2 separate regions of the Homo sapiens genome follow, and region 1 is linked to region 2. The links come from fine-mapping of genetic effects on gene expression. Tissue or cell type: neutrophils. Region 2 holds a variant in brackets; the other region holds the start of a gene. All regions are shown on one strand. Distances are from middle to middle.

What was found. PIP is the estimated chance that this variant, and not a neighbour inherited with it, causes the effect.
Region 1: WDR33 starts here. The variant in region 2 is fine-mapped to the expression of WDR33 in neutrophils (BLUEPRINT, PIP 0.95).

Annotation. Positions count from the first base shown.
Region 1 is chr2:127,806,350-127,814,676 of GRCh38, reverse strand. WDR33 (WD repeat domain 33) reads left to right here and starts at 3,506. Exons shown (of 22, transcript NM_018383.5): 1 at 3,506-3,665. It overlaps LOC124907885 (a long non-coding RNA gene), which reads right to left and starts at 3,426. Exons shown (of 2, transcript XR_007087230.1): 1 at 2,534-3,426; 2 at 945-2,165. RefSeq lists enhancers at 3,205-3,274, 3,545-3,834, 3,855-3,934, 4,015-4,094, 3,501-4,441 and 1 more.
Region 2 is chr2:127,650,136-127,658,462 of GRCh38, reverse strand. It overlaps LIMS2 (LIM zinc finger domain containing 2), which reads left to right. Exons shown (of 10, transcript NM_001161403.3): 2 at 901-1,060; 3 at 3,567-3,633; 4 at 3,919-4,039. It overlaps GPR17 (G protein-coupled receptor 17), which reads right to left. Exons shown (of 2, transcript NM_001161417.2): 2 at 5,824-7,747. The coding sequence starts at 7,727. The coding sequence ends at 6,708. Among named protein-coding and RNA genes, the nearest start is that of GPR17, 8.1 kb to the right of the region's middle. RefSeq lists enhancers at 5,997-6,076, 6,117-6,176, 6,596-7,321, 7,322-8,049. The variant G/A (reference allele first, on the strand shown) is at 5,245.

The DNA of each region.
Region 1 (8,327 bases), 160 kb before region 2:
GGCTTTTATGAAGGAGAAGATTTTCAGATGTTCTTACTCAACCATTTCTGCTGATGTGCTTGGCTGGAATCACTTAAAGCCAATTCCAGACATCATATCATTTAACTCATACATACTTCAGGACACAACAGGTAAAGATTTTACTTATTTATTTTTGAGATGGAGTCTTGCTTTGTTGCCCAGGCTGGAATGAAGTGACACAATCTTGGCTCACTGCAACTTCCGCCTCCGGGGTTCAAGCGATTCTGCTGCCTCAGCCTCCTGAGTAGCTGGGATTACAGGTGCCCACCACCATGCCCAGCTATTTTTTTTTTTTTTTTTTGTATTTTTAGTAGAGATGGGATTTCACCACGTTGACCAGGTTGGTCTTGAAATCCTGACCTCATGTGATCCACCCACCTCAGCCTCCCAAAGTACTGGGATTACAGGTGTGAGCCACGGTGCCCAGCCAACAGGTAAAGATTTTAAAAAATTAATGAAAAGGCCGGGCGCAGTGGCTCACGCCTGTAATCCCAGCACTTTGGGAGGCCGAGGCAGGTGCATCACAAGGTAAGGAATTCAAGACCAGCCTGGCCAAGATAGTGAAACCCCGTCTCTACTAAAAATACAAAAATTAGCCGGGTATGATGGTGCAAGCCTGTAATTCCAACTACTCAGGAGGCTGAGGCAGAAGAATTACTTGAACCTGGGAGGCGGAGGTTGCAGTGAGCTGAGATCGCGCCACTGCACTCCAGCCTGGGCGACAGAGCAAGACTCCGTCTCAAAATAAATAAATAAATAATGAAAATATAGTTGTTACATATAACAAATTTAAAAACTCTTTAAAATGTCTTTTCCCCCCAGTTTGTTCAATTGGGACCCAAATAGGGAGTACACATTCCATTTGGTTGATATGCCTCTTAAGTCTCTAACCTGTAACAGATAATCTCTAACAGTTTCTTTCCTCAGTTTTTAAATTTTTATTGGAAGAAAATGTATCACATGTAAAATTTTATAAAATATAGAATATGGCTGACTGCATCCTTGCAGTATACTTAACAGATTCATTTGTCTCCTGGTCAATTTAAAAAACAATTTTCCAGGAAGGGGCCTGTGAGGTTACAGGTGTGAAGGATTTTTGCCCTTGATTAGACTGCTCCTCCAATTCAGTACATTTTAAAGATTTTCAGGGATCAGGACACTGCCTGAATGCCTCCTCTACCACTCCCAGTATAATTTCTAGGAACTGACCACTTGCTTGTCTTTTCTGCCTAACTTCTAAACCCAATTGATGAGCGGACTTCTTAGCGTTACCTTCCTGACCCCATTCCCTACCTTCAGCCCTTGAGAATCCTGCCTTCTATCCTGGCTTTCCTGCCTTGCACTCAGGGTGTCCATGGCTTCCTTCCATCCTAACCTAAGCTCATCACACAGAACTGGAATTGTCTGGCCTCCTTACATATTTCTAGACACATATCAAAATAAGATTATAGGGGCTGGGCGTGGTGGCGCATGGCCTGTAATCCCAGCACTTTGGGAGGCTGAGGCAGGAGGATTGCTTGAACCCAGGAGTTTGAGACCGCCCTGGGCAACATAATCAGATCTTGTCTCTGTCTCACGTGTCCGTGTGAAGAGACCACCAAACAGGCTTTGTGTGAGCAACAAGGCTGTTTATTTCACCTGGGTGCAGGTGGGCTGAGTCCGAAAAGAGAGTCAGCAAAGGGTGGTGGGATTATCATTAGTTCTTACAGGTTTTGGGATAGGCATTGGAGTTTGGAGCAATGTTTTGTGGGCAGGGGGTGGATCTCACAAAGTACATTCTCAAGGGTGGGAGAATTATAAAGAACCTTCTTAAGGGTCGGGGAAATTACAAAGTACATTGATCAGTTAGGGTGGGGCAGAAACAAATTACAATGGTGGAATGTCATCAGTTAAGGCTATTTTCACTTTTGTGGATCTTCAGTTGCTTCAGGCCATCTGGATGTATACGTGCAAGTCACTGGGGATATGATGGCTTAGCTTGGGCTCTGAGGCCTGACAGTCTCTACTAAAATTAGCTGGGTATGGGTGTCCTGGTACAGGTCATTAGTCTGAGCTACTAGGGAGGCTGAGGTGAGAGGATCACTTGAGCCCGGGAGGTTGAGGCTGCAGTGAGTTATGATCACCCTGGGTGAGAGACCTTGTCTCTAAAAAAAGAAAAAATATAGAAGTTTATAAACATTTCTGATGTTATCATAAAAACTTTAGATACTGTGTAATGTCTGCATGATAGTCTACGTATGGATGTGCCATTATTTAATCACTGTCTGCTACTGTTTCCTTTTTTTTTTGCTATCATTAATACCTCAAAGATTAGTACACAAATCTTACTCACATCTCTGAGGCTATCCTTAGAATAGATTTTTGGAAGGGGATTATGGAGTCAAAAGTAAGACTTCTTTGAGACAGGGTCTTACTCTGCTTCCAAGACTTAAGTGCACTGGCACGATCTTGGCTCACTGCGCCCTCCAACTCCTGGGCTCAAGTGATCCTCCCACCCCAGTCTCCCAAGTACCCATCACAGGAACGATCACAGGAAGGCGGTCACAGGAACGCACCCCGACGCGCAAAGATGGGATCTCGCCATGTTCCCCAGGCTGGTACGATTCCTGATTCATACTGGAGAACAACTTGCTGTGCAGTTATATTTTGAACCTCATCAAAATGGAATCATACAGCGTCCTCTTCTTTGTGCCTAAGTTAACAGTAGCTGCTATTCGTTCAGGCTGTTGCGTTTATCCGTAACTTCCTATTTCTCTGTAGAAATCCACTGTATGATACACCACAATTTAGCCACTCAACTGCTGATGGACATTTAGGTTACCAGTTTTTTACTACTACGAATAAACGTGCTATGGACATTCTTGCACATGCCTTTGGTGGACGTATGCACTCATTCCTCTTGAAGTGAAATTTCTGGGGTCACAAGGTAAGCGTACATTTAGCTTTGGCAGAAACTGCAGCGGTTTTCCAAAATGGTTGCATCGTGGGGCTGTTTTTCTATCTTGGTCGCTGGACTTTAAGCGAGGCGTAATCTAGAGGCACAACTGGCTCGGGTAAGGCGTGGAGCCTGACTGTGTGCCGGGATCTGCCAGGGCTGCCACCAGCTAGCTGCACGGGTGAACAGACTCAGCAAGGTGCCACAGTGGCTTCCCACAGATCCACTCTCGGTGGGCTCGGTCCAACGACCCGCTATGTCTGCCGTACTGGCCCCGTACAAATATACTCATTCACATACTGGAAAACGGGGTGTTTTTCAGAGCATACACGTTAGCTCACACTGTAAAAAAAAGTCAGCACTGCGAAACGCAGTCGCTTCTTTCCTCCAGGAGGTAGCGCGTCCTACTCGCTCCGGAACAAAGGAAGCGCTCTGCAGGGTCTCGCGGCTCGGCACCTCACCTAGGCACATGCGCAGATCGAACCTCACAGAGGCCCGCGGTCCAGGCGCGCGTGACGTAGCGCCGTCCCGCCAGTGCGTGATGACCCCAGAGCGTGCGTTCGGTGGCCCATAGGGGAAGATGGCGGCTGCTCCTTTGGAGGAGCGGGATTGAGAGGATCGGGGTGGGGAGACCAAACAAGAGAGACATTTCTGGCTCTGAAGGCGAACGCTTCGCTGGCCATTTAGGAGCTCTGCTCAAAGCCAGACGGTGAGTGCGGCGGCGACACGGGACTGCTCGCCTGCAGCAGGCAGCGGCACTCTCCGCCATTTTCGGGCTCGGCCGTTGCGTGCTTTGGGGGCCTGGACGGGCGCCTGGGCACAGGTTGGAGGAACTGGGAGAATCGACCTCGGGGCGGCTGTTCGAGGCAGGTTCGAGACTTATGGGAGGGGGCTGGAGGCTGGAGGCCAACCGGGAAAAGCGGCCATGGTTAGAACTAAGGCCCTGACTGGGAGCGGTGGCGACGAGAAGACGTAAGTCAGGCCACAGTTAAGACGTGAAGTTTGGAGGGAAATGCATTTTAACTGAGGTTTGGGGCGGGAGTGGAAAGAAGTGGGCCGAGTTGAAGTAGTTGGTTGAAAGGGTCAAGGGAAGTTAACGTGAAATCTGCAAAACAGCTGAAGACTTAGCCGTGATGTTATCGTGGCTTGAAATCGGTGCTTATTATAAGGATGAGGCTACAGCTTGACAGGCAAAGCCCTGCTTTTTTGGAATAGTTGTATTTCTATTTGGTTTGTGCTAGATCCCTGTTTCTGATTTTAAGTTGTCTTCTGGCAACTAAGTAGTGAGGATCTTAGCATGCCTTCTTAAAAGAAATGACAATGAATGTTTGTACTTGGTTGTAACCCTTGGGATTAGTGGCCCCTTCCGGAGTAAGGAGGAGGCGGCGGCGGCAGGTCGGTAGGGAATTCCGTAATTGGATCTATTTAAATCAAATCAGAAAAATACGGGCTACTTGTAGAAAGCCTGTCAAGAATGTTTTAAAGTAGTTTCTACACACATGATCTTAAGTTGACTGTTCAGGAACTTTGGAAGACATTAGAATATGAACAAAAAGCCTGCACTGAAAGGAACAACTCTGGGGAGCGTAGACTTTACTTTTTTAGTACACTCTGGAGAGCTAATGCATGCTATATATACATATATATGTGTATATATGTGTGTGTGTATGTATATATAGCCTGTGAATATGGTGCAGTGGTAAACCTACTTAATTCAAACCTTTTAGTGACAGTTATGCTAGTTGTACCTCTTGTGGCATTTTTCATTTCCTCGCCTTAATTGCATTTTACCCATTTTTTATTACTGTAAGATACTTTTGCTTTTTTTGTCTCCTTGACCGGGAGAAGATAAAATATTGTATAGATTTGAGTTTTTGCTGAGACTTGAAGTTCCATATTTAGACTATCTTCTTGAAACTTGGGGAGAAATTTTAACTTGTCTTTCCTGTACTCCTAGGAAGAATTTTGGTAGAAAGTTGGCTTATGGCCGGGCGCGGTGGCTCACGCCTGTAATCCCAGCACTTTGGGACGCCAGGGTGGGCGGATCACCTGAGGTCAGGAGTTCGAGACCAGCCTGACCAACATGGCGGAACCCCGTCTCTACTAAAAATACAAAAATTAGCTGGGTGTGGTGGTGGGCGCCTGTAATCCCAGCTACTCGGGAGGCTGAGGCAAGAGAATCACTTGAACCCCGGAGGCAGAGGTTGCAGTGAGCCAAGATCGCGCCATTGCACTCTAGCCTGGGCAACAGAGCGAGACTCCGTCTCAAAAAAAAAAAAAAAAAAAAAAAAAGGAATTTGGCTTACATATATTACAATGGTTTAGACAAAAATAAATGTTTATCTGTGAAGCTGATGGCTTAACTTGGATAATTTTCTTTGGTTGGTGAAAAATACTAAACAGATTTTGCCATCACGGTTTTATATTGACGTAAGGCTTTAATTATATTTTTACTAAGCACTTAAGGTATTTATTCAGAGCTCTCTTTGCTAAGTAATAAGTTCATATACTTTTCCCATTACTTTGCGGTGGAATATTATTTGATTATGGCTGAAGTTTGAACTGCTTCATATTTCAGAATAGGATAGTAAGGTTACAGAAAAGCTTTATGATTACGACAAAGATATTAGTGAAAAATTTTCACTTATAAATGTGTTTCTGGAATTCTTTTTTTTTTTTTTTTTTTTTTGAGACAAGAGTTTCGCTCTGTCGCCCAGGCTGGAGTGCAGTGGCGCGATCTTTGGCTCGCTGCAAGCTCCGCCTCCCGGGTTCACGCCATTCTCCTGCCTGAGCCTCCCGAGTAGCTGGGACTATAGGCGCCCGCCACCGCGTCCGGCTAATTTTTTGTATTTTTAGTAGAGACGGGATTTCACCGTGTTAGCTAGGATGGTCTCGATCTCCTGACCTCGTGATCCGCCCATCTCGGCCTCCCAAAGTGCTGGGATTACAGGCGTGAGCCACCGCACCTGGCCAATTTTTGTATTTTTTAGTAGAGGCGGGGTTTCACCATGTTGGCCAGGCTGGTCTCAAACTCCTGACCTCAAATGATCCACCTGTCTGGGCCTCCCAAAGTGCTGGGATTACAGGCATGAGCCACCGCGCTCTGCTGAAAATGATTTTTCTTTGGTAACATTTATCTCCCCATTTCAAACCATTTACATTAGTCCTAGAGACTGAAGCTCTTCAGTGTATTGGAAAATCTGAGCAGTGCTACTCTCATCTGTCTGGCCCTTAAACATTTTACTAATTTTCTGGTAGTGACTGACTTTCTAAAGTTGTATTGTATCTTGTACTCATGATTTGTGTGCTTATAAATTCCCAGAGCTAGGTAGTATTGGAAAGGGCATGTATGGGTTTCAGCAGCAAATGGACCTAGGTTTGAATGCCAGGCTCACCATTAACTACCTTTTTTATATTGGGTCAGTTAATTAAACTCTCTAAGCTTCAGTTTCTTTGTATATAAGAATGTTAACTATAAAACCTAAAGGTAAAAAGTGCCTCATATATAGTAGGCATTCTTTAAATGTTAACATTTTTTTTCTTTCTGTGATGAATTTAATTGGTGACATCATTTTCAGTTTTAAACATTAACTCAAATATCTTTGTTGAAATTTACTGACAATCTCATTCCTCTGATAAGTTAATCACTCCTTTCTCTGCTATTAAAGCATTTTGTATATATCTTTAATGTATTTTGACTATACCTTCTCCACTACTTGTGAATACTTTGGTTTTTAGTTTGTTTGTTTGTTTTCTGAGACAGGGTCTCACTTTGTCACCCAGGCTGGAATACAGTGGCATGATCATGGCTCACTGTAGCCTCTAATTCCTAGGCTCAAGCGATCCTCCCACTTCAGCCTTTCAAAGTCTTGGGAGTCATGAGTCCCTGCTGCCAGCTCTTTGTGAGCACGTTGAAGACGTGCTATAGTACCTTATATTTTTGTATTCCTAAAACCTAGGCATTATACAAATTGAAGAATGAATTTTCTACAAAAATTCCCCTCATGACTTGGTTTATTTCTGATCTTTGGCTGTTGCTTATTAACTCTTTGCCTAGATTGTATTCTCCTTCCTTTCACACTATTCCTATTCTGTTCAGTCCTTAAAATCCAGCTAAATCCAATTAATGAGGTCTTCAGTGACTCTCATTTATTCATAACTTGTTTAGTTAGTCTAGTGTCTGTGTGACTGCCTTCTGTTACTTTGTGTCCCATTAGTACCTGCCTCTATGCCTTACCATTTTGAGCAGATCCTTGAGTGGGATGATACGTGCAAAACTGTGCTTTAGGCAGTTTGTTGTTATAGGCACCTGCTCTCTACTCTGTTTGCTCTCAACTTAGTAGGTGGAGCAGCAATTTTCCTTTTTTGGTATATGGAATATTCTGGTAACTTTTTTGCAACTTTAAGAAATTTCAAGCCAGGTGCAGTGGCTCACATCTGTAATCCCAGCACTTTGGGAGGCCGAGGCAGGTGGATCACCTGAGGTCAGGAGTTCAAGACCAGCCTGGCCAACATGGTGAAACCCCATCCCTACTAAATACAAAAAAAATTAGCTGGGCGTGGTGGCACATTCCTGTAATCCCAGCTACTTGGGAAGCTGAGGCAAGAGAATTGCTTCAACCTTGGAGGCGGAGGTTGCAGTGAGCTGAGATTGCGCATTGTACTTCAGCCTGGGCAACAAGAGTGAAATGCCGTCTTAAAAAAAAAAATTTCAAACATGCAGCAAAGGTGAAAGAATACTACAGTGAACACCCATATGCCTTCTGTTTGGATTCGACTGTTAACCAACATTTAACCATTTTGCTTTAACTCTATATCCTCCCTTTCTTGAATGATTTGAAATTAAATTGCAGATATACTGCTTTTCCCTGTAATACCTCAGGATGCATGTCTTTGAAATAATGCTTTTTCCTACGCTTTTCTACATTTTTATTTCAAGCCAGTCTCCAGCTGAAAACATATAAAATCATTATCATACCTAAGGCAATTAGCATGAAATCTTTAGCATCATCTTTTTTTTTTTTTCGAATGAGTTGGTGTAGTTCTATTTTTTTTTGGCTTTGTTCCACAGTTGTTGAAGAGTTGGTTTAATTCTAGGTTACACAGAGTTTAGGGTAGAACAAAGACCAAAGAGCAGTCTCTGGCAAGATTCTGGGCTGGTTTTACTTTAAATTCATAGCTAAGGCAGGAATGGAGTGAAAACAACTAAAGAGAGGCCGGGCGCAGTGGCTCACGCCTGTAATCCCAGCACTTGGGAGGCTGAGGTGAGCAGATCACCTGAGGTCAGGAGTTTGAGACCAGCCTGGCCAACATTGTGTAACCTCGTCTCTACTAAAAATACAAAAATTAGCCGGGTGTGGTTGCGCATGCC
Region 2 (8,327 bases):
AGATTTGCTCCCCCTCACCACACTCCCGTCTCGTCTCAAAGATTCATACTCTTGTCTTTTTTATTTATTTTTTATTTTGAGACAGGGTCTTGCTCTGTTGCCCAGGCCTGAGTGCAGTGGCACTCAGCCTCGGCCTCCCAGGCTCAAGCCATCCTCCCACTTCAGCCTCCAGAGTAGCTGAGACTACAGGCTTGCACCACCACACCTGGCTAATTTTTTTGTTTTCTTGTATTTTTATTAGAGATGGATTCTTGCCATATTGCCCAGGCTGGTCTCGAACTCCTGGGCTCAAGGGATCCGCCCACCTTGGCCTCCCACAGTGCTCTGGATGACAGGCTTGAGCCATTCTGCACACGCACCCAGCTACCCTCTTGCCTGCTCTGTGTTTGGGTGGTTATGTGTTTATTGGAGGCAGTCAGTTTGAAACTAACTCATGGTGCAGAGGATGGAACCATGGAAGACTGAGCAGTCTGGATTCAAGTGTGGACCCCGCTCTGCTGTGTGAGCTTGGGCAAGTTACTCAACCTCTTTGAGGCTTAGGTCCCTTTTCTGGAAGAGGCCATAATAATAGTAGCTGCAGTATTGCCCTGGGGATTAAATGAGAGTGTGAATACAGAGCCGCTCACCTGTGCTGGGTGGTGTTCTGTGTGCGAGACTCTCTGGTCCCTGAAGAAGGGGTAATAGGGGCCCAAGTGGGAGTTGACTGGGCCCCTGACACCCCAAGGGGTGGGCACTACAAGCACTGAGCAGCCTGGACCCTGGGTTAGAGCGATTTTCCTGATCCTGCAGAGCGTCTTCACTTTTTAATACGAGGTGTGTCTGTCGGGCGCAGGCCCCCGCGTGTGCCCCATCTGCACCCCTGACCAGCTCTGACTCACTCCTCCTGTCTCCTGCCCCCAGCAATATGTCGGACGCCTTGGCCAACGCCGTGTGCCAGCGCTGCCAGGCCCGCTTCTCCCCCGCCGAGCGCATTGTCAACAGCAATGGGGAGCTGTACCATGAGCACTGCTTCGTGTGTGCCCAGTGCTTCCGGCCCTTCCCCGAGGGGCTCTTCTATGAGGTGAGGACACTACTGAGGGCTTTCTCAGACCCAGCTCGGAGTCTGCCCTCTATGAGCGGGTGGGCCGGGCTCCATGCAGTGGTCCCGACTGGTGACAGGGCCAGGTCTGGAGCCAGCCCAGAACCAGGCTTGAGCTCCTGCACGGGCCCATCCTTCACCTGTGAGATGTGAACAGCACCCCAGGTGCCCTGGGTGCTAACAGAGAGCCACCTTTCACCAGCCTCCTCTGGGCAGATGCTGGGCAGGCCCTGGGGGCAGGAAGAGCCTGCCCTGGTGGTGCTTGCCCTCCCTGGGGACTAGACAGTGAGCACAGCAACCGCATGGCCCACCAGCTGGTGCTGATGCCCTGGGGGTCAGGGTTCCCGGGGTGGGGTGCGGTGGTGCTCAGGGAAGGTGAGGTTTGGGCACACCTGAGGGGAGGGAGACATACTGGGCAGAGGGCACCGCATATGCACATACCCTGTGGTGGGAGAACATGGGGTGTATGGAGAGCAGTAGGAAGACTGGTGTGATGGAAGCCGAGGGCATGAGAGGGAGAAGGCCAGGAGCTGAGGAAAGGGAGGTGGATCTCGCTTGGCCCCACGGGCCTCTACGGAGCCATAGGCTTCCCCTCTGCAAGAGGCAGGAGCCACCTCGGGGTGTGGAGCAGAGGAGTCACACTATCTGCTGACATTTGAAAAGGTGACCTGGCCGGGCGCGGCGGCTCACGCCTGTAATCCCAGCACTTTGGGAGGCGGAGGCAGATGGATCACCTGAGGTCAGGAGTTCAAGACCAGCCTGGCCAACATGGTGAAACCCTGTCTGTACTAAAAATACAAAAAATGAGCCTGGCATGGTGGCAGGTGCCTGTAATCCCAGCTACTCGGGAGGCTGAGGCAGGAGAATCACTTGAACCTGGGAGGCAGAGGTTGCAGTGAGCCGAGATCGCGCCATTGCACTCCAGCCTGTGGGACAGAGCAAGACTCCATCTAAAAAAAAAAAAAAAAAGAAAGAAAAAAAAAAGGAGGCTTGTGGCCGCTGTGCTGAGGAGAGGATGTAAGGCGGGGCAGGAACAGAGGCTGGGCCAGGAGGCTGGGGGGACCAGGAGCTGAATTAGTGCAATCACCCAGATGAAAGTGAAGGGGCCCCCACCAGCTCACAGGAGCAGTCGTTAAATCATCAACAATCTTGGGAGCTGGTTGGGCAACAGAGTTATTGTTTAAAAATTAAATTATATCAGCGTACAATGGGATACAATTTTATTAAAAACAAAGGTAACAAATACTCAAAGCATACCACTTGCTAATTATTTTGTTCCACTTTACTATCGTCTATGCTGATGGGGTTATTTCTGTCCATTGTGCTGGTGTGGCCACTGCACATCTCCCCTCAAGTCCACATCGATGTCATGTTGGCAGCCAGGAGTTGGCCATGACGGGAATATTCACACCATGGACACTGGCAAACGCCCCACAGCAGGGCCTGCCTCTGCGCCCCAGAGAGCTGGCTGTTGAGCATTTACCAGAACATCACTTGTGCTTGTGGTGGCGGTGGTGGCCAGGGGTCAGATGCTGGCTCTGTTTCAAGGTAGAGCTGATGGGACTGGCTGGTGGATGGATGTGGGGCCTGTGGTCCGCCTGGCAGAGCAAGAGCCGCTGTTCCTCACAGTGTCTTCAGCCTCCTGAGGAATGCTGTCTAAGTGTAGAGGCAGCGGGAGGGGTGGGCAAAGCTCTAGGAGGGGTGGCCATATGCCCAGAACAAAGCCTCTCTCTCTCACACACAGCAGGTGCCCAGAAGATTTTCATTGCTGAAAGAGTTTAAGCCCTTCCTGACTCTACAGGTCACTGGGTAGGGCTATATCCAGTTTAGTCTAATAAGACACTCATTTTAGAGAACAGGGAAAAACCAATTAAAAAACAGAAAATACAATTGTTAGAGGAAAGCAGAGGCAGGCTTTGGCCCCGCTTGTGGCCAGCACAGGGGCCCTCGCTGGCAGCTGCCGCCTGGAGGGTGTGCACACTGGCTCCTGCTGGCCGCAGCCCTGAGCTCTTCCCACTTCCCCGTGCCCAGGCCCTTCCTGCGTTCCCTTCCTTCTGTCTCCTATACCCGGGTCTTCATGGCCTCTGAGAGAGCTGGATACTCCCACAGAGAAGGTATACGAAATAGGACCAAGTGACACTACACTTCAGACTGGATCTCATCCCTCCTGGCTTAAAACCGCCTCGCCCCCAGCCTGTTCTCCGGACCAACAGGGTCCAGATCCTCAGTAGACACCAGTGGCCCTTTGACAGGTGGCCTCACGGACCTCTCCAGCTTCCACGGGGGCACCTCCCTTTGCACCCCACCATCCCAAAAGGGCCAGTGTCCTCTCTGGCCAGGCCTGGGACCCACTGCTCCAGCCTCAGCCCGGCATGCCCCTGCCTCAGTGCCTCATCCCCTGCTGTCAGGTCCTGACCCAACAAGGGCCTGGGCTGCTCATGGGGATGATAGGTGGTTTGCTTGTCCTCTCTCTGCGACCCCTTTGCAGTTTGAAGGCCGGAAGTACTGCGAACACGACTTCCAAATGCTGTTTGCTCCGTGCTGTGGATCCTGCGGTAAGGCCGGTGACAGTACACATCCTGGGCTGCCTGGGAAGTGGGCAGCAGTGGCGGGGGGCAGGGGGCCGAGGGGGTACACAGAACTGGCCCAGCTCTTTCCTAACTCCCCACCTTGCCTCTCTGAGCGGCAGCCGTCAGGCCCCCTACAGGCATCACCATCCCACGAGGGAGCCCATGGGCCAGGCAGAGAGCAGGCGGAGTGCTAGGTGGACAGGGCTTGGGAGGGTCCGAAGAGGGGACAGGCACGTGCTCCCCAGCCAGCAGGGACCTGTCTTCTTCCAGGTGAGTTCATCATTGGCCGCGTCATCAAGGCCATGAACAACAACTGGCACCCGGGCTGCTTCCGCTGCGAGCTGTGTGATGTGGAGCTGGCTGACCTGGGCTTTGTGAAGAATGCCGGCAGGTGAGGTGGCCGTGTTGGGCCAGAGAGGACTGGGCCACAGCCCTTCCTGGCACACCTGCCACCTCTCCTGTGTGCTACCCACTTGCTGAGGGCGCAGAAGGGTCCCGGTGCTGCAGCCTGCACTGATGTAGCTGCCCTCCCTCCAGGTCACCCCGGGGCGGATAGTCCAGCTCCCAGTTTACAGGGCCCCACGCTCAGCGAGCTCCTGGCAGCCTCTCGGGAGCCATGAGAAATCCTCACACTCTGCCACCCCCCTGGCCACCCCATCTACTGACCCCACCTGTCCACCTTCTCCTGCCTGTACCTGTGCAGCTCAGTGTGGCTGGAGGGAGATGCCCACATTTACTCTAAATTGAGGGCCACAAACCTCATGGGTACTCCAGAAGTTCCCACCTTCTGCGAACCCTTGGTCTCTCATCCTCCCTTCCCAAGCACTGTCCCTATAGCAGGTGGCCTTGTCTCCCACCTCCCCTGGCCCTAGCTCTGAGATCCCGTGCAGCCCGGCCTCTGTCTGTGAGCCCTGTTCATCCCCACACTTTCTCCAGGGCTTGCTTCTCCACGCCACTCTCTCGTCCTTTCTGAAGGACTGGGCTGGGGAGCTGGGTTAAAAACACTGCTGGGCCTTCCTCCCCGGCTTCTCCCAGCACACCCGCTGCCCCTCGCGTGTGCTACCCTGGCCTCATCTGCCCAGGGACCCACACCTCCTCTTGACCCCTCAGCAGCCCTCACCACAGCTGCTGAGGTGCAGAAACGCCCCCCTTCTGGCACCCGGGACCCTGAGTTCCTGTGGTTCTGCCCGCCCCCACAGCTGCACCTGCTCACTCCCCTCCTCTGAGTCACCTTTCTCCCTGTCTCTCCATGGGGAGTCGTCTGGGGCTCCGTGCCCGGCCCTCATGGCTGCCCTTGCAGACAGAATCCTAGAGCCCTAAATGGCACATGTGTCTGGAGAATTCCAGGCTCCACTTCAGGCCTCTCTCTCGCTGTCCTCAGCTGCCCACATGTCACCTCCACTTGGTGTCCACCAGGCATCCCAAACGCAATGAGGCACAAGCAGTTTGGGATTCTCCTCCACTGACCACCAAGGCTGCCTCTGCATGCGTCCCCTGTATCAGTGAGAGGCAGCGCCGACCCCCAGAGGCCCCAGCCATGCTTCCCCTGCCACACTCTCTCTGTCCGGGCACTCTGCTCCCTCCCGCAGCTCCTCC[G/A]AGATGCTTCCCCGACACTACCGAGCTCTTGTCCGTGTGCTGCCCGTGAGAGAGGCACGTGGCCTGGGGCCTGGCGTCCGGCCCACTGTCCTCGGAGCTGGGCGGTGCCTGGCATTGAGCAGCTTGTCTAAATGAAGGGCTGAGGGGCAGACGGTGCAGTGCAGGGGCCGAGGGACAGCACCAGGAGCTCGTGCTGACCAGCAACGTCGCCGACAGGGTGTGTGGAGCGAGCCCAATCTCCTTCCTGAGCCAAGGTTTGCACAGGGCCACTGCCCCAAGGGCTGGTTGGGGAAATCTGAAAGATGCTGGAAACGTTTTGGAAAGTCAAACATGCTACAAAAGCATGTTGCCGTAAGGACGGTGCAGGGTGGCAGCTAGAGTGAGGAATGAGGGCCCCTACTTGGCCCTCCCAGCCCCACAGTGCAGAACCTCAGAATCTGGGCAGATGTGCTGTGAGCTGCCAGAGCCCCAGCAAGAGAGCCCACGAGGCTGCCTCTGCCACTGTACCACCACTTCACCATTCTTGGGTCAGAGAAGTTCTGGGAAACGCTTCATGTTGACCAAACATAACAACCTGTGTAGTCTTAAAGCTACAGTTATATTTATGGTCCGTACAAACAAATACAAAAAAGGACATGTTAGGGAAATATCTGCACACTAGCAAGGGAAATAGCTCAGGCGGAGAGAGGCCTCTCTGGAGGAAGTGGGTCTGGGTCAGTGGGAGGCAGGTGCACAGCCCAGCCCTGGCCTGAGCTGAGCTCCCGTGACTGCACATGCTTGTCCAGGACTGGGAGGCCTGGGAGCCTGTCAAAGAGCTCTGGGGGTTGCAGGCTTGTGCGTGGGGTTACAGCAGGAGAGATCCAGAATCCAGAGCTGTGCTGAGTCCCTGCAGGCCGTGAGTGCTGACGTCCGCTGGCAACCAGCCTGAAATGTGTGGCCTGTGTCTCTTCAACTCAGGCAGTGTGTGTCTGGCAGAGGCACTACAGAGGGGACTCAGAGTACCTTGCACTGCAAAGGAGTATTGAGACTCCCTCCCCGTCCCCACCAGGACTCCCAGGTCCCTCTTCTGGGTCATTTGCAGCCTGCCTTCAGGGTCTTTCTGCTGAGCCTCGCCGATGAGCGATTCTGTAGCGGGAAGGAGGCTGGGAGCCTAGCGGGAAAGAAAGGCCTCCATTGTTCAGGGGTTGTTCTTCCGGCCTCCTCTCTCCCTGCCACAGATGAAGTCGTTGAGTGTCTAGGAGCCATTGTAGCCATCACAAGCCCCTGCAGAGGGGTGGCCGATGGATCCCCTTTGTCAGTTCTTCCTTTTTATGGGTTGAGACTAGGCGATCTAGAGAAATGGTGGGCATCTGCTGAGATTTCAGGTTGCTTGCTGGGGAGGTGGCTGGGGAAAGGGCAGATGCCTCTTGCTGGGTCTGCTGAGTCCTAAACAGTCTGCGCTCGGCCTGGACGGCGCCCCCCGCTCACAGCTCTGACTTGGCACTCAGCGAGCTCTCGTTGGTTTTCCCTTCGAAGCTGGGGGGCGGGCCCTTGAGCCTTTTGCCACAGAGCAAGTTGCACAGGGCGTGGCGGAACTTCTCAGCCACGAAGAAATACATGATGGGGTCGAGTGCCCCGTTGAGGCTGGTGAGGCAGGAGGTGATGCGGTTTGCCAGGGCCAGGATGCGCTGGGTGGCGCAGGAGGCCCCATGGCTGCGGTAGTGCAGCACGTAGACGGAGCGGTTGACGTGGTAGGGCACGAAGCAGACCAGGAAGATGGCCAGCACTATGGCGATCATGCGCACTGCCTTGGTCTTGAGGCGCTTCTCCACACGCAGGCCCTGCCGCAGGCTGCGGATGATCAGCAGGTAGCAGGTGACCGTGGTGATGAACGGGAAGGTGAAGGCCACTGCCAGGGACACCAGGGCATGGTGGGAGGCCTTCTCCCGGTACAGCTGCAGGCAGACCACCGTGTGGTTGGTCTGCACGGTCTGTGGGCTCACCAGCAGCGGGGCCATGGCCACAGCCACCACCACCCACAGGAAGGCACAGGCCAGGTGTGCGTAGAGGGGCCTGCGGAGCTTGAGGGACTTGACCGGGTGCACAATGGCCAGGAAACGGTCGGCGCTGATGCAGGTGAGGAAGTAGATGCTGGCGTACATGTTGAGGTAGAAGAGGAAGCCGGTGAGACGGCATGCGATTTCCCCAAATGGCCAGTGGTTCCCAGAGAAGTGGTAGACCAGGCGGGTGGGCAGGACCAGCACGCACGACAAGTCGGCCACGGCCAGATGCATCAGGAACACGTTGGCCGGGGTCCCGGACTTGTGGTCTCGGATGAAAAGCCACAGAGCCAGGGTATTGCCAACTAAAGCCAGGATAAAATCCAGAAGGTAGAAGGAGGCGAACAGCATGTTCTCCAGTGGCGTCTCCTGGCCACATTGCTCTGCCGTGGCCAGGGAGAAGTTGGTGATCAGACCTGGGGGAGCCACTTCAAGGCCATTCATGCTTTGGCTGGAGTCAGAGCCTGGAGGGAACAAGCAAACAGTTCACAATGAGCTTGCGATCTAGGCAGCTTCACGCTCTCTGAAGTCCAGAAGTCAGGCCTCCAATGCCTTCAGAACCTCCCACTTTCAAGCTCAGCACCGCCCACGGGGCTGCTGAGGGGACCTCCTTGTCCATTTGGTGTGCGTGAGCGTCAGAGGCATTCTGAACTTCAGCACAAGGCAAACGCAGAACCAGGGCTTGGAATTTCGCCGCTATGCAGCTGCACCCCTGCCACCCAGGAGATCTGAGGCTCCTCAGAGCTGGGAGGACCGGGTCAGTGCCATGGCGGGGAATGGGACGTGAGCCTTGCCTGGGTGAGGCTCTGGGTTTTCTGTTCTGCCTCTGAGGTGTGCTGTCTGAGTGACAGGGGTGGTGAGGGGCGGGGGCAGTGTGTCTCCGGGATTCCAGCTCCTCCTCAGCCCAAGCCTTGGCAGGTGAGTTCTGTTCATCCTGAGTGCCTGGACCCTCCCTGACCCACCTGCCCACAGGTGCAGTGGCCGGGGTGTCACCGCTTTCTGCTTCCCCTGACCATGGCTTGCCCCTGGCACTTAGGAGGGTGC